Linked DNA regions of Homo sapiens: regions 1, 2, 4 and 5 are each linked to region 3. Evidence: fine-mapped expression QTL. A gene starts in region 3. Each other region holds a variant in brackets. All regions are shown on one strand. Distances are between the middles of the regions.

Region 1 (4,000 bases), 36 kb after region 3:
AAGGGGGATGGAGGCTGAGACCAGGAGATTTCGACCCAGGATTGTCCAGCTTGGGGCAGAAAACAGCCATCGAGCTGTGTGCCGAGTGCCAAATCCATCATCAGGAAACGATGAGAAAAATAGAGCTGTACTTGGAAAATACCTGCCCATTTTAAGCCCAGACTCAGGAGTCAAAACAACCCCAATGTCCTAGTGAAAGCTGGTGTGACCTGGTTACGGTAGGAGTCAAAAGAGGCAGAGACTCTGCTGAGTTGGGGCAGAGTGCAATGTTCTCGAGGACTTTCTCTCTCCCTGGAGACATAAAAATCTGAGAGCAGGTAGCGCAGGTAGGGCTGTCATCATCACAGCAGCAATCCGTCAGCAAAGCCAGACCAGTCGGGGGCCGAGGGCTGCAGCTCTCAAAGCTGGCCCTGGGCAAGGATGCCGCTTGGCAGGTACAGCTGCAGCCCCTGTCCTCAGCCTCCCCGCTATCCTCAGCCTCAGCCCGTCCTCAGCCTTGCCCCTGTCCTCAGCCTCGGCCCCTGTCCTCAGCCTCGCCCCTGTCCTCAGCCTCGGCCCTGTCCTCAGCCTCGGCCCCTGTCCTCAGCTTCACCCCTGTCCTCAGCCTCGGTCCCTGTCCTCAGCCCTCGCCCCGTCCTCAGCCTCGGCCCGTCCTCAGCCTCTCCCGTCCTCAGCCTCGCCCCTGTCCTCAGCCTCGCCCCTGTCCTCAGCCTCGGCCCTGTCCTCAGCCTCGGCCCCTGTCCTCAGCTTCACCCCTGTCCTCAGCCTCAGCCCGTCCTCAGCCTCGGCCCCTGTCCTCAGCCTCGCCCCTGTCCTCAGCCTCACCCCTGTCCTCAGCCCTCGCTCCAGTCCTCAGCCTCGCCCCTGTCCTCAGCCTCGGCCCCTGTCCTCAGCCGCAGTCCTTGTCCTCAGCCACAGCCCCCTCTCCTCAGCCTCGCCCGTCCTCAGCCTTGCCCCTGTCCTCAGCCACGGCCCCTGTCCTCAGCCTCAGCTGCAGCCACTGTCCTCAGTGTCGAAAGTCAGGTGCTCCCATGTGCTTTTAAGAGGTGGAAGCTGGGGTGATTTTTAAACATTTCTCTCTGTTGTGCTATTCCACATAATTCCCGTTATTGTAAATGACTGGTTAAAATGTTAATGTAACTGTTGTTTGTTTGTTTGAGATGGAGTTTCGCTCTTGTCACCCAGGCTGGAGTGCAGTGGTGCTATCTCGGTTCACCGCAACCTCCGCCTCCTGGGTTCAAGCGATTCTCCTGCCTCGGCCTCCCTAGTAGCTGGAACTACAGGCACCTGTCACCACGCCCAGCTAATTTTTTGTATTTTGGTAAACACAGGGTTTCACCATGTTGGCCAGGATGGTCTCGATCTCCTGACCTCATGATCTGCCCACCTCAACCTCCCAAAGTGCTGGGATTACAGGCTGAAAGAAGGTTTAGTATCATGTGACTGTTTTATAAAGCCGATAGAACAATTCATCCTTTAAAAAAATCTGTAAGAAATCAAAATACTGATAAACTGTTAATTCTGAGTGGTAGGCATTTGGACAATTGCTTTTTGTATTTTTGTGTGTTGCTTAAAATAAAACACTATAGATCCATGGGCCCCCTTCAATGGGCCAGTGTCTTCTCTCCCCACACCCATCTTCAGGGCCTCGGGCCTCGGGGAGTCTTGGGGCTTCCCTGGACCTACACAGCATCCAGCCTGGGGACACGGATCATCTCTTCGGAGGCTGCCTAGCCCCGGCCCCAGGGCCCGAGGCTTGTTGTGAGAGAAGCCTGCTTGGCTGTGACACCAGCCGTGTATGCACGGCTTCCCACTACCTGCAGGACCCAAGTCTGCAGCTAAAACCTAAACAGGAGAAGTCAGTACCATGCACTTATCACCTCTCCCCCCTCCTTCCTCCCTACTCTCCCTCCTCTTCCCCCTTCTCATCAGGTCCTTTTC[C/T]TGGCTGGTGGGTAGGAGACACGGCCTGGTTATGGGGTGAGGTGGGGCATCGTGAAGCTCGTCCCTGAGCCCTTCGAAGGTCCGATGTCCTGTTCCCTGCCCTCAGTCCCTCAGGCTCGGCAGGTGCTGAGCCTCGGCAGTGCCCAGGGAGAAGGGGGGACCGCCTGGGCTCGGCTCTGCCCACCACACACAAGGCATGGTGGGCACACCAGAGACCGTGGTGGGGGGAAAGTCCTCCTACCCCCACCTAGTGTGAGCCCACAAGCATCACTCACTCGTCTTCTGACAGATCTTCCACATCCATCTGGGACGGCTTCTCTTCCTTCTTGGCATCGGTGACCACCTGTGGGGAGTGGAGACATTTAAGGGATGGGAGGTGTCAGCCACGGGCACTGAGGCATAGCCTGTGGACCTGCTGGAGGATCAGGCTAGGGCACAGAGGCTGGATGACCTCCCATCAGACAGGGCTCTCTATTGACTGGACATTTCCAGTTAGGGGAACCTGACCAAGGAACTGCACCCTTGATGAGGCCTGGCTCCTGGACTGAAGACCAGGTCTGGCCTGTCAGCCCAACTGTGCCACTGACTGGCCCTCCTTGAGTCCTTAGAACTCATGTGCCCCAAGAATAGCCTTGTTGGGGGTTAACAACCAGCTCTCTCTGTGGCTCTGAGGGCAAAAGGGAGAGAAGGTACAGTCTGGAAAATAACTGACCCCCAGGAAGGAGCTTAAACTTGCCAAGAAAGAACTTCAATAAACTTCCAGAATGATGACTGTTCACTACAGCAAAGACATGGAGGAACACACCCCAGATGTTAGTGTTGGAAGTGCCCAGACAGGTCATTAAGTCAGCCTCTTCTTCTTACAGATAAGGATGATGATTATGGTGGTGATAATGTTGATGGTGATGACGATGGTGATGATGATGATTATAATGGTGGTGATGATGACGGTGACTATACTGGTGATGGTGGTGATGATGACAGTGATGATGATTGTGACAATGATGATGGTGATTATAATGGTGATGGTGATGATGATGGTGACAATGGTGATGGTGATTATAATGGTGGTGATGATGGTGAAGGTGATGATGGTGATGATGGTGATGGTGATGATGGTGATGGTGATGATGGTAATTATAATGGTGGTGATGATGGTGAAGGTGATGATGGTGATAATGGTGATGGTGATGATGGTGATGGTGGTGATGATGGTGATGGTGATGATGGTGGTAATGGTGATGGTGATGATGGCGATGGTGATGGTGACAATGATGATGATTATGATGGTGATGATGATGGTGATGGTGATTATAATGTTGGTGATGATGGTGACAGTGATAGTGGTGATGATGATGATGGTGGTGATGATGGTCATGATAGTGATGGTGATGATGATGCTGGTGATGGGAATGATGGTGGTGATGTGATGATGGTATTAATGATGGTGATGATGATGATGGTGATGATGGTGATTATAATGGTGATGATGACAATGGTGACGGTGATAGTGGTGATGGTGATGATGATGATGGTGATGATGGTCATGATGATGGTGATTATAATGGTGGTGATGATGGGGATAGCGATAGTGGTGATGGTGATGATGATGGTGACAGTGATGGTGGTGATGATGGTCATGATAGTGATGGTGATGATGATGCTGGTGATGGGAATGATGGTGGTGATGTGATAATGACGGTGATGATATTAATGATGGTGATGATGATGATGGTGATGGTATTAATGATGGTGATGATGATGATGATGTGATAATGATGGTGATGGTATTAATGGTGATGATGACGGTGGTGATGATTATAATGGTGATGATGATGGTGATGGTGATTATAATGGTGGTGATGATGGTGAAGGTGATGATGGTAATAATGGTGATGGTAATAGTGACGATGATGGTGATAGTGATAGTGGTGATGGTGATGATGATGGTGACAGTGATGATGGTCATGATAGTGATGATGATGATGATGCTGCTGATGGGAATGATGGTGGTGATGTGATAATGATGGTGATATTAATGATGATGGTGATAATGTTT
Region 2 (6,620 bases), 220 kb after region 3:
GGTCTTTGTGGGGCCTTGTCCTTCAGAGCTTCCTATTTGCCCCTTTCAAATTGGTTGAAGAAACCTTGGGGAGTCAGGAGAGAGCCGAGAATCAGGACTGAGTGAGAACAGCGAGCTGCCCTCCAAGGCCGCCTCTGACTGGGGAGGCTTCCGCGTGGCTGTGCAGTCACTGGGCTGATGAGGCTTTCCGCCCTTACAACACAGGTTCAACTACAACACCTCAAACTCAACCCCAACAGCTATGAAAGCAGCATCGGGGAATTGGAACGAAATCACTCCCGATCCCACCTCTGCTACATCCGAGCCATGTCTGTTCCTGCATTCATTTCCTGCAATTTTACTCCCCAGCATTCGTGTTTTCATGTGGTTCTAACTAAGGCCCTAGAGGCTACAGCCCCACGCCGTCCTTGCAGAAGCTGTAGCTCATCTCCTTCGCTATTTTAATTGAATGGGCACCAAGCGTTTGCCCTGGACCACCTGTGAAAGGCACCGAGGGAGAAGCCATGGGCTCAAGACCCCCCAGCCAGGGCTCGCCTTAGGACCCTTTACATATTTGAAGGGAGGCCAGGAAGGTGCAGCCACAGTTTCATTCTCTTATCACTCTGCCTGCATTTTTCAGGTTTCAATAAGAGCAGATATAATTAGAGGGGCTCTGTTCCTCCTGGAGAAAGAACACTGCAAATTACAGGGTATCTCTAATGAGCCATGGACCGGAAGACAGCATCACTGACCCCTCATCATCTCAGGCTCTCCTCTTGCCACTCCCACCATGACTGGCTGGATGACCAAGCAGGGGCCTGAGTGTTCAGCTACAAAGACAAGCAGCTCCATGCAGCCTTCAGAGAGGAAGAGAGGCAGGTGGCTAGAGAGCCCCCTGTGACAGATGGGCTGGTCCGGGCAGGAGGAAGGAGGGCAGGGGCTGGAGAGTCCCTGGGGACCAATGGGGCTTCTTGGCCTAAATGCCACGGGTGGGAGCTGGGGCAGCAGGGGTTTGTGAGGCACTCACCTGGATTATCTGTCATTGTTGTAGCTCATACAGTCCAAGGACCTCAGACTATAAATGTGTGGTGGTGAATTAACTACCTGTTGTGATGTTATCCTGGTCCTGTGAAGATTTACAAGGAGCCATGTCACTTCTCTGCCAAAACCCTGGACTGTCCTCCTGTCCCCCTTGGCACAAATCACAAAGCGCCATCGTGCACACAGGAGCCCGGGGGCTCAGGCGTCACCCAGCAGCTCCAGGCCTCCTGGCTCCAACCCTCTGCCTTCTTGCTTTCCCTTCAGCAGAACGGGTCTCTCCCTTCCCGGGGCCTTTGCACATTCCCCCTGTAGGAATGCTCTGTCTTGCTCTCTGCAGGAATTCCCTCTGCAGCAATGCTCTGTCCCCAGGGATCTGTGTGTTGCTTCTCTCTGAGGACACCTGCGAGCGAGATTTCCTCGACTACACAACGTCAAATAACTGGCCCTTACCTGCATCTGCCCTGCTTTATTTTCCTGAGTAACACGCACGTAACACGCGTCACCACCTGGCCTGCTCACTGATGTGACTGCTCATTGACCCTCCCAGACTCAGTGGGGTGAAGATATCTCATTCCTAATTGCATCTCACTTAGCAGTAATAAACAGAACACGAATCTGCATTCAACGGTCGATGCTTCCACAGTGTTTCCTCCAATACTCGAGAATCTGCTCCACAGGTAAACGGACTTCTCCAACTGGTGATAGAAATGGTGGTGCCCGTGGTGGTGGGAACCCACACCCACCCTCAGACTCCAACTCGCGCATCTCCGCAGGCCCAACAGCCCCCGCTCCAGTGGCGCAGAGACCCCCGAAGGCCGGCACCTGGACGTTCCCCTTGAGCTATTCACTTAAGAAGAAAAAACAGTCCAGTCTCCATAGGGCACTCTTCTCATCCATTCTGAGAATTGAAAATCAGGCTTTTTGTTTGTTTTGTTTTTAACCTCAAACAGCACTGTTTCTAAACCACGGGGAGTGAATCCAAATCTGAAGACAGAATATGGACTGAACTTCGGGGCTCCCTGGGCTGCTGGCTGTCAGCTCACCTGTGCCCACCTACCCCGTGCCCACCTGCTTTACTTACCATCCTGGAAAGACTTCTCAGTCTCAGCCATGGCCCATGGCAGCCCAGGCAGCCCTTGCCTTCCGCTCTCTGCGAGGGAGCCCCTGGAGGGCGGCAGTGGAAGAGACGCTCTGAAGCCTCAACAGCTCCAGAGACCAGTGGGCAGCCTTTCCATTCCTGTGTGCCGGCCTGACATCCCCCCGCGTGAACTCCCTTGCACACACACGAACACACACACACAGAGATTACCCACACGCCCATTCAAACAGCAACTTAATAACAAGGAACTGAAAAAAAGAAAGGCTATTAGACCCAAATGAGAATCACAAGGTGGATCCCAATGAGAACTGTCTGCAGCATCACACTCACCGCTGTGTCTGAGAACAGGATTTTCCATTTCGGCAGTGGATCTAAACCTGATGCCCAGGACCTGTTTTAAGCAGTGAATCAAAGATCACAGAAGTTAAAGTTTGGCAAGTTTTCGACGTCAAGGAGATGGAAAGCCTAAAATCAGTTTCTGAACCACTAAATTAGAGGGAACAGCCTTGCTCGCGAATTTTCCAGAATTCCACAAACAATTAAGAAGACCCAGGGTAGGAAGCACATACAATTTGTTTTCTTTGATGGTTAAGTTGGTTTAAGGCACAGAGTTGAGAAGACAGGCAAGAAGAAGCAACTGTTCAAGCCCCAAGGAGAATCCTGAACCGACCCAGCCCCCAAGGAGAATCCAGAACCGACCCAGCCCCCGAGGAGAACCCAGAACCGACCCAGCCCCCGAGGAGAACCCAGAACCGACCCAGCCCCCGAGGAGATCCCAGAACCGACCCAGCCCCCGAGGAGAACCCAGAACCGACCCAGCCCCCGAGGAGATCCCAGAACCGACCCAGCCCCCAATGAGATCCCACAACCGACCCAGCCCCCGAGGAGATCCCAGAACCGACCCAGCCCCCGAGGAGACCCCAGAACCGACCCAGCCCCCGAGGAGACCCCAGAACCGACCCAGCCCCCGAGGAGATCCCAGAACCGACCCAGCCCCCGAGGAGATCCCACAACCGACCCAGCCCCCGAGGAGACCCCAGAACCGACCCAGCCCCCGAGGAGATCCCAGAACCGACCCAGCCCCCGAGGAGATCCCACAACCGACCCAGCCCCCGAGGAGATCCCACAACCGACCCAGCCCCCGAGGAGACCCCAGAACCGACCCAGCCCCCGAGGAGATCCCACAACCGACCCAGCCCCCGAGGAGACCCCAGAACCGACCCAGCCCCCGAGGAGATCCCACAACCGACCCAGCCCCCACGGAGAACCCAGAACCGACCCAGCACCTGGGCAACATTCTGCCCCCGGCCTCCTCCACTTGCTGGGCATGCATCACCGTCATCTGCAGCCACTTTCCCCAATGCCAGAATCAGAAATTTTCAAAATGGTTGAATAGTATTTGGTTATTTTTTGATAGGATATAATGCTTTTGTTCCTTCTTTGACTTCACGTTTTCTTTGTTCTCTAAGCTAAATGCCAGCATTTAAACTGTATAC[C/T]GAGACACACAATTGTGTGAATATTAGCTTGAGGCTCTCTTAAGACAGACTCAGATATCCAAAGGCTTTGAACTCACAGAATTTTGTAAAACTCGAAGCACATTCGCACTGCCCTTTGGAACCTGCCTTGTCTACAGAGCTAATAGGCAAGACCCAGCTCACCCAGGGGGCTCGGGGATCCCCAGCCCTGCGTGACTTTGCAACACCAGCTGAGATGCCTGGTTCCCAGTTAAGTTACTAGGATGAGTTACAGCACTATTTATTCAAAACTCTGAGAGGCCCGTGTTACTGCTAATTCCAATTTTAACTTTTCTTCCAGAATGGCAGGAAGCGATGAGGGCAGCTGAGGTTTCCAGAGCTCGTGTGTAGCAGGCGCCACGGCTAGTGCATCATGTGAAATTATGTTGCTTTTCTCAACTGTGAGGTGGGGACTCAACATGGTTTCCATCGCAGCCCATACAGGCTGCTGTGGTTGACCAAGCTTCCTTTGCTGGCAGGGCTGGGTGTGTTCTGCTGGCTGCAGCTCACCACCATGCTCAGAATGGCTCATAATCATTTGTTGTGTACTGTTTTTTCCAAAGACACGTCTCTGAGACTACGTCAGCTGCACCTGGACATGGTCACACGTCAACATCATACAGAGTGGTTTCTCAGGTAGCAGAAAGTGACAAATGAGACACGGTTATTCTTGTAAGGCAACTGTGAAATAACAGGGTATCACACAAATTTAGGTGGCCATTGTCTTCGTCTCAAATTTTCTCCTTAAGAAATTAAAAACAGGAGAGAAAAACAAGTTTTCGATTAAAAAACAAGGAGATCCTGGGATCTCCGTGGGGGCTGGGTGGATCCTGGATTCTCCTCGGAGGCTGGGTCGGTTCTGGGATCTCCGTGGGGGCTGAGTCGGTTCTGGGATCTCCTCGGGGGCTGGGTCGGTTCTGGGATCTCCTCGGGGGCTGGGTCGGTTCTGGGATCTCCACGGGGGCTGGGTCGGTTGTGGGTTCTCCTCGGGGGCTGGGTCGGTTCTGGGATCTCCTCGGGGGCTGGGTCGGTTCTGGGTTCTCCTCGGGGGCTGGGTCGGTTCTGGGTTCTCCTTGGGGCTTGAACAGTTGCTTCTTCTTACCTGTCTTCTCAACTCTGTGCCTTAAACCAACTTAACCATCAAAGAAAACAAATTGTATGTGCTTCCTACCCTGGGTCTTCTTAATTGTTTGTGGAATTCTGGAAAATTCACGAGCAAGGCTGTTCCCTCTAATTTAGTGGTTCAGAAACTGATTTTAGGCTTTCCATCTCCTTGACGTCGAAAACTTGCCAAACTTTAACTTCTGTGATCTTTGATTCACTGCTTAAAACAGGTCCTGGGCATCAGGTTTAGATCCACTGCCGAAATGGAAAATCCTGTTCTCAGACACAGCGGTGAGTGTGATGCTGCAGACAGTTCTCATTGGGATCACATTTTCTTCTCTGTTCAGGTGGAGGCATTTCATACATTTTTTACCAGGACCAGACAACCTTGGCAAATCATCTAGAAAGCACAGTAAATGTGAAAATGTGATTAAATAAACAGGTGTTGGATTTCAGAATACTGTTTTATTTTTTTTCCTCAAAAGACATCTGCTTACCAATCTCAGTGTTACTGGGGCTGAAGGCCATGCTCTTTCCAATGATGGGACTACACTCAAGTGCTAATTTATTACAATTACAAGTTTCCCTTCACCACTGCTGATGGCATAATTTGACCACAAGTGTTTTGCAAATATATCACACCTGGTATTCCAGGACCCACTTCAACCACTGGCTTGACTCAGAATTTTCCAACAGGGACAATTAGCATGTGCCACCTGCTGGAAACACTAGCCACACCTGAAGTGAAAGGAGAATCCTGGAAAGTCTTCCCCTGGAGCTACCAGACTCCCCACTCTCGAGTCTGGTGGACACGGCACTGTCAGGACCCCTCCCCTCGGCAGAGAGTGGTGGTCGGCTGCAGGTCTGCCCACCGTCTGACGGGATTCCAGCTCTGCCCCAGTGCTTGGCACCTGGGTGCTTCTGTTAAACCCAGTCCCTCCCAGACCCTTCCCAGATTAAACCTGGACCCAGGACCCCGCCCTTAGCTGCATTATCACTGCCCAGCAGACCTGACCCTAACCCTAACCGCCAGAGATCCTGTTAAGCAGGTCTATGGTGGGGCCCAGAATTCACACTTCATCCACTTCCCAAGTGATGCTTTACTGTTGGTCCCAGAATAGGGTGATAGCCCCTCAGTCTGCCAGGGGCAAAGGAGGGTTCCTGTGACCTGGGACTTTCAGCGTTGAAGCTGGAGCAGCCCTAGGGCAAAGTGGGACGGTCACCTCACCTGGGGACCTCACCTGGGGACCTCACCTGGGGATCACACCTGGGGACCTCACCTGGGGACCACACTTTGAGAACCACTTACCTGGATCCTTTATTAATCCTACGGTGGAGAAAAACTGCTGACATTAATTGTGCTGAACTTTGTATTTTTATTGCAGACTTCTTCCTTCGAGATGTATGTGCACAAGAGAAGATAACAAATGAGTCCCCAACACCTAATCTGGAATTTTTATATTAAGTTTTCTCTCTCTTAGAGAAGAATTTTCAAAGAGTAGTCATTCAAAAAGCAAAACACACAAACAAAACCCTAAAACTTTGAGAGACCATTTTATGCCTGGAGCCAAAGATGAATTTTATAGGCTTTGCTTCTTTAGGTCTTGGCTCCAAATTCTACACAGTGCTGTGTTCCTTTCCACCATCAACATACAGAACCAATTCCCCTTCTGGATTGTATGCACTGAAGAACTTTAGCTTTATTTATTAACTTTTTAAAGATCTCTCAATTGGTTACATAACAAACCACCACCAGCCTAGTGGTGTAAAGGAAGCAGCATCATTTCCCGAAATTCTGAGGGTTGGCTGGAAGGTTCTCGGGGCTGAGACTCCTGGGCTGGGCTGGGGTGGAAGAGGGCCTCACTCACACGTGCAAGGCCTTG
Region 3 (6,620 bases):
TCCTGCAAAGGCTTTGTCACTGGTGTCACTCCTCCAGGCCTCAGATAATTCCAGATACACAAGCGCTCTCCCAACAAGCCATATTCTCACCTCTGCAAAGCATTTCCAAGCATCTCCGTTTCCTCTGCATAAGCGACACGGCCCAGCCACCCGAGCCCTCGTTGCCATCCACCACTGGGCATCAGCTTCCACTCCCGTCTTTCTCGTGTCCTCTGGTCCAGCCCCTGGTGAGCTCCAGCCAAGCACCGCCTACTGGGCCTCTGGTCTTTACCTGTTCTGTTCCCTCTGCCTGGAGTTTTTTTAAGTAGAAAAATGCGAGAATGTGGAGTGGGAATGTAAAATGGTGTGGCTGCTGCAGAAAACACTTTGGTGGTTCCTGAAAAAGTTTAGGCATACACTTAGCATGGGACTCAGCATTTACCCCTTAAGCACACGCCCCATGGAAACAAAACCTGTTCCCTCGGAAACGCGCACACAGACGCTCGTAGCTACGTCCTTCGTAACAGCTGGAAGGCGGATGTTGGGAACAGGCCCCCCAAAATCTGGCCATAAACTGGCCCCAAAACTGGCCATAAACAAAATCTCTGCAGCACTGTAACATGCTCATGATGGTCATGACGCCCACGCTGGAAGGTTGTGGGTTTACCGGAATGAGGGCAAGGAACGCCTGGCCCATTCAGGGCGGAAAACCGCTTAAAGACATTCTTAATCCACAAACAATAGCGTGAGCGATCTGTGCCTTAAGGGCATGCTCCTCCTGCAGGTAACCAGCCAAACCCATCCCTTTATTTCCAGCCCATCCCTTTATTTCCCATAAAGAATGCCTTTAAATCTATAATCTATAAAAACAATGCTTATCACTGGCTTGCTGTCAATAAATATGTGGGTAAATCTCTGTTCAAGGCTCTCAGCTCTGAAGGCTGTCAGCCCCGATTTCCCACTCCACACCTCTGTATTTCTGTGTGTGTGTGTGTCTTTAATTCCTCTAGCGCCGCTGGGTTAGGGTCTCCCTGACCGAGCTGGTCTCGGCAGGCGGAGACGACCGGGTGTCCACCACAGGTGAAGGGATTAACAAATGGTGCCCGGTCCCTGGGGTGGGATATTATGCATCTGTGAACAGAAGTGAGACACTGATACACTGAGGGGACTCAGGGGCCACCACTGGGATGAGGCTTGGAAATGTGGCTTCCACCGAAAGAAGTGAGACACAAACGTTCGCACACCGCGTGATTCCTTTTATATGAAATATCCAAAACGGACAAATCCATAGAGACAGAAAGCAGATCTGTGGTTTCCAGAGGATGGGGAAGGAATGAGGAGTGATTACTTAATGGGGATGAGCTGTTGTTCTGGAGGGATGAAATGTTCTGAAACTGGAGAAGCAGAGGTTGCACAACGTCGTGAATCCAGCAAATGCCGCCGAAGTATATGCTTCAAGATGGCTGTTAAGTGAATTTCACTCCATAAAAGGTGTGTTTTAGAGGGTTATGCCCATGAGCGAGCCTACCTATACATGTGCAGTGTCACATTACTGAGACGATTCTGTTTAGAGCAAAGCCACCTACCTCCCACGTCCCTTTCCAGCCTGTCTTCTTAGCCACCTGCCTCCCACATCCTTCTCCAGCTTTGTCTCCTTGCATGCAGCCCTCTCAGGGCTTTTGAGGCCTGGAGGCCAAGGGTGCTGGGAGGTCCCACTTTGTACCCTCTCCCGAGAGCTTTGAGGGGTACCTGCCGCCTCTAGCTGTGCCTTCTCTGTGCCCTTCAACTCTGGAGTGAGGTCAGATCTTGGCTCTGGGGCCACCACCAGCTGTTTCAGGCTTGCAAAGTTCTGTCCGACAAAATACAGCTCCGCTTCCCTGTGGGGGGAAGCATTGGCCCCAACAGGCCTTCTTCACCAACGGGGACAGCAGTCCCTTGAGTGGAGCCCTGGACTCAGGGAGCTCTGGTCAGTGAAACTCTCAGCTAGGGGCTAAGGGTATGGGGACCTTCATATGTGGGACAGGCTCCTCGCTGGGGACGCTGCCACCAGGCCTGTGAGGCAGCCAGCCAAGTTCCACTTGCTGCAGCTGGGGCTGCTCTGGACGGCCAATCCAGACACCTCCCCCCTCTCCACCCTCTTTCCATCCTCAGGTTTGCATTTCTTAGGTCTGGCACTTCAACTGCAAAGTACAAGTCCTGGGCTATCTCCTCCTGCTCTGCTGAAGGCCACATCGATGCTTGGAAGGTAGGGTCAGCCCAGTCCCTTGCTCCACACACCCAACTACACTGATGGAGCGACCGTCTACACAGGGATCCTACGGTGGGGAGTGAGCCTTGCTGGCCTGATGCATGGCAGTGGTTCCTGCTCCAATAAGACCAAGAATAATTAATAACTGTGACTAAGTTAGAAGCTTTGGCTGCATCTGAATTCACCAGCGTTTCCAGCTCCTGAGGCCATGTGCGGTGTCACCTCACTCCTGGCAGACAGACTCCCACTCGGAGGATGATTTTTCATAGCCAGGGTCGCTCTGTGGACCTTGGATGGACCAACGTGCTTTCCATGTCCAACTTTGTCAAGATCCGGGGAAGATTCTCCAGCAAGTCTCTTGGAAACATGTGCATGTGGCCCCAGGCGACGTGAGGGGTGCAGTCTGCCTGCGTTATGCAATGCTCAGGCCAGTTTTCCCTGAGAGAGGAATGCTGCCGATCCTCTGCGGTAACCCACAAAACTCCACGGAGATGCTTGGAAGGAAAAGCATCGCGTCCTCCAGATGTTTTGAAATGTTCAAGTATTTAAAAGGGAAATGGAATTTCTGTTTATCCTTTTAAGTGACAATTATTCATTGCGTCTTCCTGGCCACAGCTCATTCAGCACTACTGCAGATCCGGCCAGACCCCCAGGAGCCGCGGCCCCTGCACAGCCAAGGCCAAGAAGCTCCCATCGTGGAGGGGGGCGCATTCCGGACCTGTGAGGCCCGGGGTTCGTTTTTATGCCTCCTTAAAGGGATGAGCCAGAGAAGAAAGTCTTCGCAAAGCCTTTGCCCCAGGAGGGGCGGGGCTGCGCAGGGCGCCTGTGGAGGCCGTGGCCGGGCAGGTGGGGAGGCTCACACACAGGCCAGAGGCTTCCCTGGAAACTGACGCCCTAGGGCAGGTCCAGCTCCTGGATGGTCGCAGGTGAAGAAACGCCAGGCCCAAGGGTCCTGGGAGAGAGAGGGGAACAGCGCCCAGGAAGAGGTGCAGGTTCCCAGGGACTGCAAGGGCCGCCGCCACCCTCCCACACCCCACCCTCGCTGCATCACCAGTCAGCCCAGGGCAGGCTGCTGACCCTCCCTTGGCCTCAGTTTCCTCATCTGTAAAATGGAAAAAGAAGCATGTCCACCTCACCAGTGGTCACAGTCACAGGTGCTGACATGGAGAAGGATTGATGCGTCCTCCTGAGTGCTGCCTTGTCATGCTATAAACCAGGAGGCCTGGCTCTCTGCCTCCCGGGAAGGTCTGTTTCTAATCCTGTGCTGGGTCTGCGTGGCTCCATGGCCTCAGAGGCTGACACCGAGTGTGGTGTCCCTGGGTCACCGTGCTCCTTGGTTTGGTCCAGCAGGAGAAAGGGCAGCCTGCCAAGGAGAAGGCTGTGAGCTTGGCAGGGGAGAACTTAGGCGCTGTGCCTTTGGGAGGCTGGGATTTAGATCACAGCTGGGAAGCTAAGTCCTGACTGCACTGGCCGGAACCAATGGGCTCCAGTAGCCGGATGCTCTGCCAAGTCAGGAGGTAATAACCGCCACGGCCTGGGAGAGAAGCTGGCACAGCCGTGGGCCCCTGCCCTGCGGTCTGGCCTCGCAGGTCCCCAGGCCGTGTACAGACACTGTGCGGCAGGGAAGCAGAGGCAGCCATGGGGAGCAACCCTGTTTCTCAGTGCTACATGCCTACTCTCCCTGAGCTGATGTCTGGAAGACAGTAAAGGAGACCTGAGGCAGTGCTGCCCCTCCTTCCGTCTGCCACCTCCTCAGGGCTGGCCCAGGCCCTGCAGAGCAGGTGGTGGTGGCTGCTGGTGGTAAAGCCCGTCCATCCAGAGCCTCGCTCTGCTCCCAAACCACCCACCTCCCGCTGCACATGTGGCAGCTTCAGGAGCCTGGCGGGGCTAAGAGGAGATGACAGACCCCAGCAAGGACAGGCTCAGCTTCTTGGGGACCGAGTCATTGCCTGTTGCTTCTCCTGGGGGCCTCGACTGTCCGAGTGTGTTCAGGCACACGGTGCCCTGTCTGTTTCCCAGGCACTTGGGCCAAGGCTGGACAGGGAGGTGCCATGTGGGACGAAAGCCCAGGCTGTGCAGTGCTGGTCACCGGGAGTGACCATGGGTGAAGTCGCGCTGTGAGTGACTGCCTGTTATCACTGACCACGCAGGGCCATCCTGGGTGACCCGCTGTGCCACAAGCAACTGGTTCACATTGGAGCCCCCCTCTGGAGCCCTGGGCAACCCGCTGCCAGTGGGCCTTTCTCCTGAGGCCCCTGGAGTCCCGGAGCATCCCGTGAGTTCATCTGCCATACCTGTGATTGCCATGTGGGCCCAGCGCCCTCCAATGGAAAAGCTGCATTCAGTTCTGCCCGAGGATCCCAGGCCTACGACACTGTCCTCAGGCTGCCAGGGAGCAGGAGGCTGTGGGGATCTGCGTTCTTGCCAGGCCTGGGAGCAGCAGCCAAAAAGTGGACTTACGTGGACAAAATGTTGGGCCAGGGAGGAGCCCTCGGCTCTGGACGGATGTCTCTGGTGCTTTTATGCCACGTGCATTTCTGCAGATTTGATGCCCGGCAGCCAGCACTGGGCTGTGGCCATGGTGGTGAGGCAGCCTTGGGTCTGCACGAGGCTCGGAGGCCTCCAGGAACCTCCCAGGAATGTGACTGTGCCTGGAGAGAAGCGCCATCTGCACGGCGCAGTCCAGATGCTTCTCTCCTACAAGCCCATCATCAAACACACAGCTGCCCAGACTTCAGCAGGATTTGTGCACAAGAAACGCAAAGGCACAGTCCATCGGGTGAGGCAGAGGTGGAAGGAGCACCGGGGTGGGAGTGGAGGAGCACCGAGGTGGGGGCGCAGGAGCACCGAGGCGGGGGCGCAGGAGCACCGAGGCGGGGGCGCAGGAGCACCGAGGCGGGGGCGCGGGAGCACTGAGGCTGAGCTGTCTCTAGTGATCTCTCAAGCCTCAGTGCAGTGGCCACAGGGCAAGGTGCCTCCTGGTGTGTCCTCGCCTCCAAATCAGGCTGCTCCACTTCCCAGGTCAGAGTCCTGGGGGGTTGTGTTGACCCTGAGCCCCCACGAGCATCCAATCCAGCAGAGCTGGAAGGACCCAAGAACCTGCATTCCTCATGGCTCCCATCATGCTTCCGGTCCAGGAGCCACCATCCAGACCACACTCCCATTCATCCCCTGGCCACGGAAGCTGAAGCCTTGGTTTCCCCACCTGTAAAGTGGGAGTATCAACATCACCCACATCAAAGGGCCTGGATTAGATGCGGTGATGCCCGTGGACTTTAGCAGCCCCGGTCCTCCAGGGGCCCTCCCAGGGAGCTGAGGCCCGGGTGGTCCTGGCGGCCGCTCCTTCTCCAGGCCGAAGACAGGAAGGTCTCTTGGGCTGACCTCAGGCAAGAGGCGGGGTGGGTCACGGCCTCCAGGGCCAGGCTGGGGCCTCCACAGAAAGCCCGTGGGTGGCGAGAGGGAGCCGGCTGGGGTGACTGAGGGTCGCTGGGTAGATGAGGGAGGGACCCGGGGTTCTTGTGTTCACGTGTGTATTTGCCCCGTGTTTCTGCTGACATGCCACGTGTGCAACAAACAGGCTTGGCGAGCCATCCCCACCACCCAGGCCGAGACGCCAGACGTGACTGGCACCCCAGGGTTCCCTCCCGGCCCCCAGAGGTAACCCCAATGCTGGTTTACCACAGATGACTCATTCTGCCTGTTTTAGGGTTTTGAGTAAATGAAACCCAACAGCGTGCAGTCTTTTTGCCTGGCTTCCCTTTAACCACGTCTGAGAGGCTCACTTTGCGGTTGCTTCTGTGGCTCCTGGACAGTTTCCCTTGTGCGGACACAACTCAGTGAGAGCACCCCTTCTTCCATTTGTAGACTTTCCAAATAGTCCAGGCGAGAGAGGCTCAGGTCTTGAGTTCAGGGAGGGGCAATGCACAAGCAGACGCCAAGTGGAAGGGAGTACACCCCTCCCTTGGCGGGGAGGCCCTCGGGCTGGTGGGGATGAGCGCCCCTCAGACGGCACCTGCGGGTGACAGGGTGTGACATTCTGCTGTTTCTCGGAAGTAACTCGCAAGCAGCATGGGGGTTCCTAGTGTGTTTCACAGACTCTCACCAAATGTTAGGGTTCACTCCTTGTCCTACAGCTTAAATACACCAAAAGTGAGAAAATTACGAGATAACATTTCCCTCAGAGACCCATATTCTGTGTTAAAGAATTCTTCCTTCTACCTAAATCCATCTCTTTACGGTCAGATGTCATTGGTTGTGGTATTTTGTCCATTTTCAGCTTTGTTTAGATTTTTTTGACATGCAATTAAATGCCCATATTTAAGACGTACGGTTTGATAAGTTTTGACATTCTGCTGCACCCACAGAGCCATGACCACAATCGAGACCATGGACA
Region 4 (6,620 bases), 20 kb before region 3:
AACAAGGCAGGAGTCCTGCGTCTACAGGCTTCTCCAGGAGCGATCTCTCTGTCAGGCTAATTAAACGGCAGCTACTCCCCAGGACAGTCCTGGAATCCTTGCTGAATCGTGGAAGCTCCAGGCAACCACAATACCCAGAATCTTTCCGTCACAGTTTAAGCCAGAGGTAGGGTCCCAGCAGGGGCCACTCGACCTTGCAGGAAAGCTCCCACATCCTACCCACGGGATGTTCTGGACCCCACTTCTGTTGTTGAGGTGAGGCTTTATTTTACTTCAAAAGTGTAGTACTTAGAAAAAAGTCAAGATAGTTGTATCTAGGAAGTAAAGATTCGTTTAATAAATTATTCAAAACTTCAGTATATCCTATTGCAATAATACTGAAACCAACTAAGAGAAAGGATGACGATACCCATCAAAGGGAAGTTAAGACCATCTTCTTAAGTAAATCAGAACCGGTGCCTGCACAGAATGAGCTGCTAAAAGAGATTTAAAAGCAATGAAAACACACAGATACGACCTGCCGTGTTCGTAATGTGCAGCCCAAGTGCGATTTCATATGACAGTTTCCCAAATTGCACCCTTCTGTGTGCAGATTTCAAAGTTTTGCCATATCCATGTGCTCTGAATTATTGTCTACCTAGGGCATCTTCAATAGACTCATTAAATACATTTAAATGTAAAATATGTTTACATTTAAATACATTTAAATACATCTGTGTGAGATTGAAGGTCCATTGTGCTGCCTGGTTTTTTCTACAGCACACTAAAATAAATTAGTAACTATTTTAAAAAATATCCATCCAGGTACCACCTAGAGCCCTGTCATATCCCCTCTGATCATCACCCACTGGCACTGGGTGTGACACCTTCCCCATGGGAACATGGCAGGACAACCCAGGAGGAGTCAGAGGACAGTGGGGGTCAGAACAGAGTGGGCAGCGCTGTGCGCAGTCCCCCGCCGGACGGCAGTGTCCTGAAATGTCAGCATGCTGGCATTTTATCCTACTCCTTTTATTAGGGAGCCTGAAATTTAAAAACATAGGCAGGCCCTGCTTATCAACACGGGTAATTTCCTATCTCGAGTGCATTCTCACTGAAGCAGGCCTTCCTATGATGTGTCCTAGGGAGATGGGCGTCACAGTTTGGGTTAACACTGAAAAACGTAAGGACAGTATAAAGATTTGAGTAGTAACCAAGATGGCACTCTTTAAACTTCAAACAATGTTTTTACAATTAATTTTTTTCTAATTATAAAAGTAATCCGTGTAGATTGCAGACCATTTGAAAAATACAGGAAAACACAAAGAAGGAAATAAAATTTATGCAGAGATAACCACTACTATGAAGTGGGCACTGAGTTCCATTAGGAAAAATTCCTAGGGGAGGAATTAGGGAATCAAATATTGAGTTTTCCTGTCAAGGGTGGTGCCAAGCTCTTCTGGTTGGCCACACATAGCCGACATGCCAGGCCAGCCTGCACCCTCCATCCCTCCACACACATCCAGAGCCGGGGGCCCAGGTGGCCTCTCCCACAGCTAAGGCTCAGCAGAGCCAAGGGTGGCTGCCAGGCCCGCTGGTGCCCTCTGCATGCATCTCTGCCTCTTGGGAATGGGCCAGGACTGCAGAGTGGGAGAGCGCTCAGGAAGGCTTGGTGGAGACAAACTGGCAAAGTGTTTTTAATGCTGCAAAACCAAATATATGCAAGAAAGCTGTAAAAATTGGAGGAAGATGACATTCAAAGGGATTCTGCCCTCAGATCACCATGACAGCATCTTTAATTCTTGCCTTAATTTAAGGAAATAAAGCGTAAAACCATGAGTGATGAATTATAAGATTTTTAAAATTTCTTTTCTTTTTGCCAGGAAAAAACAAATTCAAAGAGCAGACCTCACAGAGATGTTCTCACAAGAATCAAATCAATTCAGACTCATATATTTTAAGTTAAAAGGAAGCATTTGAGATGTATATGTATCATTGTCAATTTCCTGCTTTACCTGATTTTTTCACTTATTTGAAAATATTTCAACAAATAAAAGGGCTCCTAAGTGTTCAGCATGTTTCTGCATCTAGTCACCTGCTTTTTCATGTCCCTTAGTGGAGTTTTATATTTCTGTTTGCTTTACAAATGTGTACATGGTGGGTTTTATATTTTTATGCTCTCAGACTTACCGGTCCTCCCATCTCTGGTTTCTGCCTTTGGTATCATGCTGACATCTCTCAACTGACCCAATTTTTTCCTATAGTTCCTTACAAAATTTGTTGTTTCTTCAATATAAATTTTGTACTCATCTCTTGGCCTAACAAGTCCTGGGTATTTAAGATGCTGGGTTGTTATTTCGAACAGGCTCCCCCTCACTCTTGCTTGCGAGGTGGTTATTGCTAGCATCTGGGAATGCTATTGGATTTCTATATTGATTTTACTCACCATCATTGTAATTTCCTCTCTTAATTTTACTAACTTTGAGTCCATCCTTTGGGGTGTTTGGGAAAGTTTTTTGGCTTGAAGTTCTGACTCTGGAATCAGCCAGACCTGCGTTTGCATTCCAGGAGTAGCATCTGTAAGACGTAAGCCTTGGGCAGGTCCCGATTCTCTGCAAAATGTGTGTGGAATGAGACAGAGTGGCTGGAAAATGTATACAGGGCCTGGCACAAAGAGACGCTTGGATGTGTCATCTGCAGGTGGTGATAGTTTCTTTTTCTTTCTTTCAAATACTGCACACTTTGTTTATTTGCTGATTGCTCTTGCTGCACTGGTAGAGCTTCTAGAGGACCTGTGGCTACAGACGGTCTCCTGCTGCAGCCCTGAGCTGGAGAAGCCCCCTGTTTTTGGGCTGAGGGTGCGGGTGTTTCACGTTCAGGGTCAGGAGGCTCCTCTCAATTTGTGCATGGTGCAGACGTCCCTGTGGTCTTCTTTGATAGATTTGGGGAGCCTGAGTTGCTTCTGTGGCTGAAGAAGTTCTCAAGTCCCGGTAGGAGGAAGCCAGGGAGCCTTTCGGTGCTTCGTGGATTGGATATGCCATTAAATACCTTACAGGGACTGCGCTTGGCTGAAGTCCAGGTGGTTTCTGGGACAGCTGGGCTCAGGGCAGGGTCCTGTCGGGCTCCCTGGGTGTCAGCGGCACCTGCCCCTGCAGGTGCTGCTCTTTGAGCCTCCCCACCCCCACTTCTGCTCCCACCGGGAGGATCTGCTGGCCTGGTGGGGCCCAGGAATGCAGAAGACTTTCCTCCTCCTCCCCCACCTTTCTTCTCTCTTGGTTATCTCTAAGTCTAAAGGGTTGTGGAAATGTGTTGGGCAAAAACAGATGGGAAGCCTCCAGGGAGAGGCAGCCTGTCTTCAGCAGGGAGATT[C/T]ATGGCTTTCGATGTACAGCCAGGAGGGTGAATAAAAGCTGGCACGTAGAACACATTCAAGTGCGTTTTCCACTGACTTTAAAAAGCAAAAACTTGTTAAGGAAGTTTCCTTTTATTTCTGGTTATCAGTAATTATTTTTCAGGTAAGGTTGCTAAATTATATCATTGCCTTTTCAGCAATAATGATGAAAACCAAAGGATTTCCTCTTTTTGACCTACTTCCCTTTCTGATGTGATGAATTAGTGTTTTAAATGTATAACATGTATAAATATGGCTATATTTTCTAATATTGAACCAATCTTGCAATCTTAAGATAAACACAGACAGGTCTCATGTATTATTATTTTACTATGTGGCTAGATGTGATTTGCTAAAAATTTGATTAGAAATTTCTTTTTAAGTTTTTAAGATCAACTTTATTGAAGTATAATTCATGTATAATAAACCCTTTGGAGTGTCCAATTCAATGACCCACCACAACCAAGATACAGAACGACCGAGCCCTCCCTCCAGACTCTGCGGATTCTCTGCAGCTAGGGCCCCTTGGCCCCACACCTGGAGCCGCTGATATGCTGTCACTGTGTGTTTGTTTGAATTTTTTGCATTACACGTACTGCATTCTGATTATCCACCTTCTGTTGATGAACATTTAGGTGGTTTCCAGTTTTTGGCTTTCCACTTCTCCTGGATCAACACCTACAAGGGGAATGGCTGCATCATATGATAGGTGGAAACTTTCAAACTGTCTTCCAAAATCGTGCGATGTGCTGGCTTTTCTGGTTGCTCCACATCCTCACTAATACCAGCTACAGTCAGTCTTTTTCATTTCACCCTTTCTAGTGGATTTGTACTGGAGTCTCTTTGTGGTTTTAATTTGCATTTTCCTGATATGCTTATTCAACACCCATATATCTTTTATGTCTGTCTAAATCATTTGCCCACTCTTTTGTTGGGTCATTCGCCATCTTCTCATTGATGCATAAGAGTTATTTATCTTAGACACAAGTTTAGATATATGTATTGCAAATATTTTCTCTATTCTATGATTTGCTTTATTGTTCCCTTAATGGTGTCTTTCCCAAAGCAAAAATTTTAAATTTACCAAGTTTTTCTTTAATGGTTTATGGTCTTTTGTGTCATAGCTAAGAAATATTTGCTGGCTTTGAGACTTTCTTCTAGAAGTTCTACAGTTTTTGGTTTTACATTTAGGGCTATGATTCATTTTGAGTTAATTTTGGTGTATAATATCAATCAATGTTCATTTTTTCAGCCAGGCGCAGTGGCTCACACCTGTAATCCCAGCACTTTGGGCAGATTGCTTTAGGTCAGGAATTCGAGAACAGCCTGGCCAACGTGGTGAAACCCCATCTCTACTAAAAATACAAAAATTAGCTGGGTGTGGTGGCAGGTGCCTGTAATCCCAGCTACTTGGGAGGCTGAGGTAGGAGAATCGCTTGAACCTGGGAGGTGGAGGTTGCAGTGAGCTGAGAACACACCACTGCACTCCAGCCTGGCAACAGAGTGAGACTCCGTCTCAAAAAAAACAAAAAACAAAAAACAAAGGATTTTTATATCAATAAAGGACATTGGTCTATGGTTTTCTTTTTTGTTATTGTCTTTACCTGGTTTTGGTATTAATATTAATTTTGTAAAATGAGTTGGAAAGTGTTCTTTCCTCTTCTATTTTCCAAAGGAGATTGGGTGGAATTATAAATTCTTTAAACATTTGGTAGAATTCTCCAATAAAACCATCTGGGCCTGGAGATTTCACTTTTGGCAATTTTTAAATTACAAATTCAATTTTCTAAATAGTTGTAAAACTATTCAAATGATCTATTTCATATTGGATGTGTTGTCGGGTTTTTTTTTTTAATGAATTGGTCAATTTCATCTAAGTAGTCATATTTACATAGAATTGTTTGCAGTATTCCTTTAATATCCTTTGATGTCTGCAGGGTCTTTAGTATGGCCCCTGTTCATTTCTAATATTGATAATTTATGCCTTCTCTCTTTTTGGTCAGTCTTGCTACAGATTTGTCTATTTTATTGATCTTTTTAAAGAAAAAGTTACTTGTTTCCTTGATTTTTCTCTTTTGTTGTTCTTTTTTCAACTTTGTGGATTTCTGTTCTTATCCTTATTATTTCTTTCCTTCTGCTATTTTGGGTAAAATATTATTTTGCTTTTCTTTTTCTAGGCTCTGGAGGCGGGAGCTTAGATTACTGATTTGAAACTTTTCTCTTTGCTAATATAGGTATTTAGTATTATAAATTTCCCTGTCAGTACTGCATTAGGTATATCACTTAAATTTTGATTTATATTTTTATTGTCATTCAGTTTAGTGCATTGATTTTCTTTGACTTTCTCTGTCACCCATGGATTCTTTAGAATAGTACTGCTTAGTTTTCAAGCATCTGGACATCTTGTTATCTTTCTGTTATTGATTTCTAACTTGATTCTATCGTGGTCAGAGAACACATTCTCTGTTTAAAATTCTTTTTAAGTCTGTTGAGATTCGTTTTATGGCCCAGGATATGGTCTATCTTAGTATACATTCCATTGGCATTTGGAAACAGCATATATTCTGGTGTTGTTGAGTGGGTGTTCTGTAAATGTTGATTAGATTCTATTTGTTGATGGTGTTATTGGGTTCTATGTTCTTGCTGATTTTCTGTCTAGTTATTTTATCAATTATAGAGAAAAGCATGTTGAAGTCTCCAACTATAATTGTAGACTTGTCTATTTCTCCTTTATGTTCTATTAATTTTTGCCTCACATACTTTGTATATCACTATTAGGAGCATACATATCTAGAGTTCATTCCTATGTCTTTTCGGTGGATTGACCCTTTTATCATTATACAATGTCCCTCTCTATCTCTGGCAATTTTCTTTGTTCTGTCGTCTATTTTATCTGATGTACTATAATCACTTCTGCTTCTTTTTTGCTTAATGTTTACGTGATAAACTTTATTCCATTCTTTAACTTTCAACTCTTCTATATTGTTATGTCTGAAGTGAGTTTCTTGTAACTAACACATAGTTAGGTCACAGTTTTTAATCCATTCTACAAATGTTTGTCTTTAATTAATGCAGTTAGACCATTTACATTTAATGTAATTATTGATATTTTAGGACCTAAGTCTGACATTTTTTTTTGTTTTCTGTTTGTTCTGTTTTTCAGTGCTCTTTTTTCCTTTTCTGTCTTCCCATGAGTTACTTGAACAATTTTTATAACTCCATTTTGATTTTTCTATAGTGTTTTTAAGTATAT
Region 5 (6,620 bases), 240 kb after region 3:
TGCGGAGCCAGCAGAAGCCACGTTAAACGCACGCGTTCTTCCATCCCTCTGCTCACCGGAAGCGAGCTTCCCAAGGCGGGCACGGCGCCGCCCCCCCAGTCACGCGGCTTCCGCTTCCGGTCGTGCCCTCTCGCCTCTAACTAGAGAACGCCTCGCGGTGTGAGTGAAACTCTGGCGGCCTCGCTAACACGCCAAACCTCTGTCCTCAGAATACGAAGGGCAAAGTGTGTCCCACTCACGCGCAGGCTTCCCCGCGGCGGCCACAGCGGCGGGGGGCGGGGGTCGTGCTCACCGTCGTCCAGTTCACCGGCATGTTTTCAATCAGCCATCACGAGCGAAGTGCTGCTTCGTGTCCACCAGGGAAAGCTTCAGGGAGCACGTTATTGGCACTCAAGATGCCAGCCATGGGCTGCCTGGAACGACGGTTTTTATCATTTATGTGAGTCCTGGGACATTTTCTTCCAACAGACCTAAGTATGTATGACACCAGCATATTACACGAAGCCGAGAGGGGGCTGCTCTGGGTGAGCGTGGAGGAACACACGACCCCTCCCACGCTCACGTGCCCACAACCTCCAGGACAGCCCAGCCTGGGTGAACTGCAACTTCTTTAGCTCAAGGGACATCTGCTTTTCCCCAGAGGGGCCCCTGGTGCAGAAGCAAGTTGGGGAGTGTGCAGAGCCGGGAAGAAGCAAAGCGAGGGTATGGGTGGGAGGGAGTGGGAATCCTTGGATTTGGCAGAGAACAAGTAAATTTTCGGAAATCATAGTCAGCGTGGTCTCCACAAAGATGAGAGGGCAGGAACTCGATTGGAAGGGGGCCAGTGAAGCTGCTGTCAGGAAGCTCTCACAGGGCAGTAAACAGCTCCTGGCACCCGGAATAGGAGGAGGAAGTCGAGAACCCACAGCCGCCCTGCCCAGCCTGGCTCCTCCTCACCCGCCCAGGCTGCTGTGCTCCTCACGGGAGGAAAACCCGCCTGCGTCCAGCTACCTCCAGGAAAGCAACAACTGCCCGTCCTCGACTAAAGGCCAAACCTTTTAACATTTTTGTCCTTGACCACGGCATCAGCTGTGCTGTCTACAGAAGGAACTATATTATTCCCACTTAAATAGCTCGGTGTTTCGTCAAGAGAGTGCAAACACGAGGGCTTCGGTAGAGGGAGGAGACACTGGCTCAGGAACCAGAGCTCACGGTTCCTGCTGTCTCTGCCCCTTGACCTCGGTGTGAGGCGGCTGCGACTGGGTCTCTGCTGTGTAAATATTGTGCCTGAGGGCCATTTTGACAATGACCGTTTCTACTTTAAAAACAAAGCAGACCAAGGGAGTCTCTGGTCCAGGGATAAGGTGCCTGCAGTGCTTTTCCGACACCTAAATCTCTGCTTTGTCCTGAGAGAAACAAGCGTCACGAACTTAGCTCACTGTTGGTGAAGTGACGGCCGCCAGGGAAGAGTGCAGGGATCTCAGGAGAGACGCTCGGGTCCTTTTTCAAAACCAGTGTGATGCACGATATGTGACTACTCGCCAGAGTCTCGGGAGAGTGTGACGAGCGATGGGTGGCTACTCACCAGAGCGACTGGATTTCTGTCTGAGGCTACTGCATATGCTGGGTCTTAGCAAGCAACGGCCATGCGGCCATCAAGGCACAACAGAGAGCTCTTCTTCTAGGAAGTTCGAGGCATTAAAAATTTCCTCCACTGGGAGCATGAGCATAAATATCTTCCATATTGTTCCCAGTTTTTCTGAAGGCGAAAGAAAATAAAGAAGGCCAGTCAATTAGAAATCTGAATTTTTCTATTAAAGAAGGCAGGGGTTAGCCGGGCACAGTGGCTCACGCCTGTAATCCCAGCACTTTGGAAGGCCAAGGTGGGTGGATCACTTGAGGTCAGGAGTTTGAGACTATCCTGGCTAACATGGTGAAACCCTGTCTCTACTAAAAATACAAAAATTAGCTGGGCGTGATGGCAGGCGCCTGTAATCCCAGCTACTCGGGAGGCTGAGGCAGGAGAACTGCTTGAACCCGGGAGGCAGAGGTTGCAGTGAGTGGAGATCGCGCCACTGCACTCCAGCCTGGGTGACAGAGTGAGACCCCATCTCAAAATAAATAAATAAATAAAAATAAAGAAGGCGGGGGTTCCTGTCTCTATTTTTCCAGGAGAACAAATATTACCAATGTACAAAACTAGGGGGAGACAGGAGTGACTTTACCTCACTGCCAACGCCTCCAACACAGTCTCCATTCACAGGTCAAGACAGAAAAGGAGTTTCCTGGAAGACTGCAGAGTCTGCCACAGACCCAGGGCAGCTGGACTTCCTGCAGATCTAAAGCCAGGGCTGGAAAAGCCACCCAGAGCCCATCAGGCCTCCTGGACCTGCTTCTTGGTCCCTCTTCTCAAAGTCCTCTCCCCTGAAGGCTATTTCCCCTGCCTCTCCCTCATCTCATCTCCCACAGTCTCCTAGTGTCTCTGCCAGCCACATGCCGAGAGAACCAGCTGCGCCCCAACACTTCCAGTCTCTAGAGAGATCATTTCCGTGATCCATTCAGCTGGGCCCAGGCCGAGGGCAGGGGCAGGAGTGGTCATGTGTTAAGAACAGGGCAGACTGGGTGGGTTGTGGGTCGTGGGGAGCTGGGCAGACACCCTGCAGGGCGTCCACAACACCCGTTCCTAATGGGAATGTAACTGAAAGATAGCGGAGATGAGCTTTTCCCAGAGTTTGGGAAAAGCATAAGGAGTGAGGAAGGCTGCACCCTCACCAGCCTTCCCCAGTGACGACGGAGCTGTACACCCTCAAGCAGATGCTGTCAACTCCTGGGAGACACAGTTTCTTTACTGAAAACACGAGCCTAGACTAGGACTGGACGGTTCTTGCTTTGTTTTTTTGTTTCTTTCTACACCATTCACATTCCATTGGTAGAAGTGCTCCTTCCATACCCGGCAGGGGGACCGAGGGGGCCATGTGGCACTGAGCGGGCTGCCGGGACCAAGGGGGCTCATCAGCCCCTTAGGTGGGGTGGGGGCATGCACCGTTTGAGCACCACCGCCGGACTCTGCACCCAGCGAGGGACCCTCTCCTCCCTGCCTCTGACCACCACTGTGAATTACAACTCCAAGCAGTGCTTCCCTGGCCACGCAGGAGGAGTTACAGGGGTTGAGGAAGCGTGGCCTAAGGAGAGGCAGATGGGGGAAGGATGTGTGCTCTGCCGTCTTCAATACTGAGGGGCCTCGTGTGCAGAAGGACGTCGTTTCTTCAGTGTGACTTCAATGGGCAGAATTAGAATAAAAAGGTAAAGTTTATTATGGAAGAAGGTAAATCTCAGCTCATCTCAACCACTTTCTCTAAGTTAGAGTTGAGTTG[A/C]CCCCCGATTCAAAGGTGCTGCTTCGGGAAGGCACAGTGCATGTCCCTGTGCTGTCTATGGCAAGAACTTGATTCAAGGAGGATGGAAGCCAGAGGCACCCAGCTCCTCCACCATTCAGCCCGAGGCCCAGGAGCACCGTCCTTTCCCAGTGCTTCTACCTCTGGTCTTATTCGCCTCTTGTGACACAGCTATGATGTGACGTCCTGCATTTTACTGATGTGGACGCTGAGGTCCAAAGACAAGCAGCCTCCCAGGGACACACGGAGCTGGAGTCCCCCGAGTCTCTGGGCTCCTGGCTGGGGTTCCTGCCGCCTGCCCTGCTGCCAGCACAAGCGTCCTCGTCGCTGTCTGGGGTGCACGCTGGGGCATGTGCTTAGTTCGTACTTCCCATTCATGGAAGAGATGATGAGCCCCAGTAAGAAAATAATTTGAAAATAATTTACTGGTGGGTGCACGCTAAGTTCCCACAAGGAAACAGACATGCAGTTCGGTGCTGAGAGCTCAGTGACCATCCTGGGGACAAGTGGTGTGGGAGCGATCACACTGCACACCAGGCCACCTGCCCCCCAGCTTCCCAGCTCACCCTCACGCCTGTCTTCCTCACCCCAGCCCACCCACACGGCCCCTTCACCATGCACAGACCCTGGCAAAGCGCAGAGTGCCTTCACTCGAACTTTCTCAGGACTACAGCCTGCCCGGCCAGTCGGCCCTTCCTAGCCTGCTTGGAAGGTGAAGAAAGTGGTCTCCATGTCACCCGCATAAAAGGCGACGACTATCTGCTCGGATGTCATAGGCTGACCTTCCCAAAACAATCTCCCTCAGAACCAACCTAGGTGCTCAGTGTGAACTCTCACCCATTAGATTGACAGAGTGGTTCTCGACTGGGGTTGATTTTTGCTGCCATCTCTCCCCAGGGGACAGCAACGCCTGTAAACTCTTTGAGCTGTCACACTGGATGTGAGGCACACCTACAGCCATAGAATCCTAGAAGCCAGGGGTGCCACCCAGATCCCACAGCGCAAAGGACATCTCCCCACAGCACAGAATTGTTTGACCCAAAATATCGCTTTTCATCAGTGGCCTTCTAAACTCTGCCTCTTAGGTGATAGGCTGCTCCCACCTAGGACTGCGTGTTAAAATGTGAAAACGGGCGGAAGCTTGGCAGCATGCACAGCTTTAATCAGGGATTCCGTCTGGAATACCTGCTGGGAGTCACTCTCTCCAGGTTAGTGGCCATCGTGATAAGCGATTCTGGGGGAAGGAGGAGGAGGAGAAGTGGGAGGAGGTCTTGGTGCAGCAGGAGGCATTTAAGATGGGATGGACTGAGGAGCCGCAGTCGCTGGATTGGACCCAAGCCACCAAGCTGGACCACAAATGAAGCCCTGGATCCACACCTCCTCCTGGTCACAGTGACAGTTCCCACCTAGGACATCTGACCTTCTAAAGGCCAAGGCAGTTCTTTACTAAGCAGACGAATACTACTTTCTTCTCAATTTCATTTTCCTTCTCAGTTGGAGGAGAGGGTGCAGTTTGTATTTCATTGAATTTTCTCCTTTTCTTGAAGGGAAGGATATGTTGCCAAAAATACTCATGAACTGCTTCCTTGTTTTTGTGATGGAGAAAATGATTATTTATTTTACAATTGCATCTGCATTAAGATGGCAACAAGGGGCCGTGGGCTGAGGGGTTAGGGTCCTGTCCCCTCTCTGTGCGCTGGAGAGCTTACTGGGCATCTTGCAGGTCTCCTGGACAGAGGCCCCAGGGCTCAGAAGCACACACACACATCCTGTCTAGTTTGTGGGACCCTGCAGAGCCCAGGCTCCAAGGGCTGCTGAGATGGCTCAGCACACGCGGGTCTGAGCATCAAAGGCTTCTGTGCCTTGCGCCGCCCCCGACCCCGCCTGCAGCCTCAGCTGCCCTCTGCCTTCCTGGCAGGCACTGCCCATGGGTTCTCCGCCAGGGCCTGGCTGCTTTCCAGCCTGTGCCCCAGCCCCGGAGGGACCGTCCCCTGCAGATGACATGAGCTTTGCCTAAGGCCAGACTTGAGGACCAGTAACTAGGGACAAAAAAATAGCTGCTCAGAATAGCACAAAAGCTGTTGTTGTTCAGTTCTGAAAGTCTTACTGCATCCTATGGCCAGATGAAAAAGGAACCGAGGCGGAGACCCCGGGCAGGACGTGGTGCTTTTGCAGACAGTAAGGGAACCAGGCAGCCTCCAGCTCTGGTGTGCTCTCTGCCCGCATGGGTCTGCAGCCCCTGCTCCCTCTCCTCACCACGGGCTGCGAGCTCTTGGCATGGCTGCCCCAGCATCGGGGTTGCCCAGGTTTCCTGGCAAAAACCAACTGAACGTTCAGATCACCTCCCTATTCAGCTGGCTTGGAGCAGAGAGCAGGAATGGTGCCTGGCCTCCTTCCCAGGCAGCCTTCCTGGGAAGCCTCCAGGGCCCTGGAAGTTGAGTGTCCGGTGCCTTCTTGTCTGTGGTCTCCTCTCTGTGATTCCCTGGGACATCCAAGGCCTGAAACAATGTGGGGCTGAGGAAGCAAGGACGCCTTCGCCAGCCAGGCGGTCAGACACCATGAGGTCCCAGGGAGGGGCTGTTCAGACACCGACGGCCGAGGGACTCTTGTTTGCTTTATAAGAGAATCCATCTTGTGAGCAGGGTGGGCTTGCAGGCAGTGGTTTTGTGTTTTTTTGAATTTCTAAGCTCAGTAGGTATGAGATGGTGTCAGTGGAGAAGGGGCCGGCTGTAAAGATGTGATCAAGGCCTAGTTTGCACATCAAATAGATTTTCTTTAATTAACCACACAAAATGATAAAAACTTTAAAATGGCTTTCTTCCCACCTGTGAAAAGAAAAACTTCAGCTGAATTAAATCTAAAGGAGTTTAATTGAGCAATGAAGGATTCACGAATTGGGCAGCCCCCAGAATCACAGCAGATTCAAAGAGATTCCAGTGCAGTCATGTGGCAGAAGATTTATAGACAAAAAAAAGAGAAATGATGTACAGAAATCGGAAGTGAGGCACAGAACAGCTGGCGACTCAGCGTTTGCCTTATTTGAACACAGTTTGAACACTCAGCAGGGTAAGTGGCTAAAGTACGGCCACTGGGATTGGCCAAGGCTCAGTGATTGTTACAGGCTCAGACTCCTAAGTTTTCTATCTTGTCTACCTATTAAGTCAGGTTGTAGCTCATCCACAAGGACTCAAATAGAGAAGTACAGAGACCTTCTCAGGACATATTTACTTTGCTTTAACAATTCCCCTC

Which allele goes with the higher level. Positions count from the first base shown, and alleles are read on the strand shown. Sizes are in standard deviations (SD) of each study's normalised expression. Not every link is listed here.
For the expression in fibroblasts of the gene that starts at base 3,692 in region 3, allele T in region 4 goes with a higher level than allele C (small effect, 0.23 SD a copy in GTEx).

Evidence for each region. PIP is the estimated chance that this variant, and not a neighbour inherited with it, causes the effect. A credible set is the group of variants that fine-mapping cannot tell apart.
Region 1: its variant is the best candidate, but not a certain one, in a credible set for the expression of SWINGN in blood mononuclear cells (TOPMed, PIP 0.63).
Region 2: its variant is the best candidate, but not a certain one, in a credible set for the expression of SWINGN in whole blood (INTERVAL, PIP 0.54).
Region 4: its variant is the best candidate, but not a certain one, in a credible set for the expression of SWINGN in fibroblasts (GTEx, PIP 0.63).
Region 5: its variant is the best candidate, but not a certain one, in a credible set for the expression of SWINGN in whole blood (TOPMed, PIP 0.56).

The regions. Positions count from the first base shown.
Region 1 is chr13:113,962,711-113,966,710 of GRCh38, forward strand. It overlaps C13orf46 (chromosome 13 open reading frame 46), which reads right to left. Exons shown (of 7, transcript NM_001365455.2): 6 at 2,217-2,284. Among named protein-coding and RNA genes, the nearest start is that of C13orf46, 9.4 kb to the right of the region's middle. The variant C/T (reference allele first, on the strand shown) is at 1,942.
Region 2 is chr13:114,144,587-114,151,206 of GRCh38, forward strand. No RefSeq gene overlaps it. Among named protein-coding and RNA genes, the nearest start is that of RASA3, 15 kb to the left of the region's middle. RefSeq lists enhancers at 3,734-3,793, 4,124-4,303, 6,211-6,620. The variant C/T (reference allele first, on the strand shown) is at 3,616.
Region 3 is chr13:113,925,300-113,931,919 of GRCh38, forward strand. SWINGN (SWI/SNF complex interacting GAS6 enhancer non-coding RNA) reads right to left here and starts at 3,692. Exons shown (of 1, transcript NR_047495.1): 1 at 1,215-3,692. It also overlaps a transcript of C13orf46 not described here. RefSeq lists an enhancer at 5,638-5,707.
Region 4 is chr13:113,905,207-113,911,826 of GRCh38, forward strand. All of the region lies in intron 3 of LINC00452 (long intergenic non-protein coding RNA 452), which reads left to right. Among named protein-coding and RNA genes, the nearest start is that of LINC00452, 13 kb to the left of the region's middle. The variant C/T (reference allele first, on the strand shown) is at 3,349.
Region 5 is chr13:114,161,229-114,167,848 of GRCh38, forward strand. No RefSeq gene overlaps it. Among named protein-coding and RNA genes, the nearest start is that of CFAP97D2, 15 kb to the right of the region's middle. RefSeq lists an enhancer at 524-1,424. The variant A/C (reference allele first, on the strand shown) is at 3,354.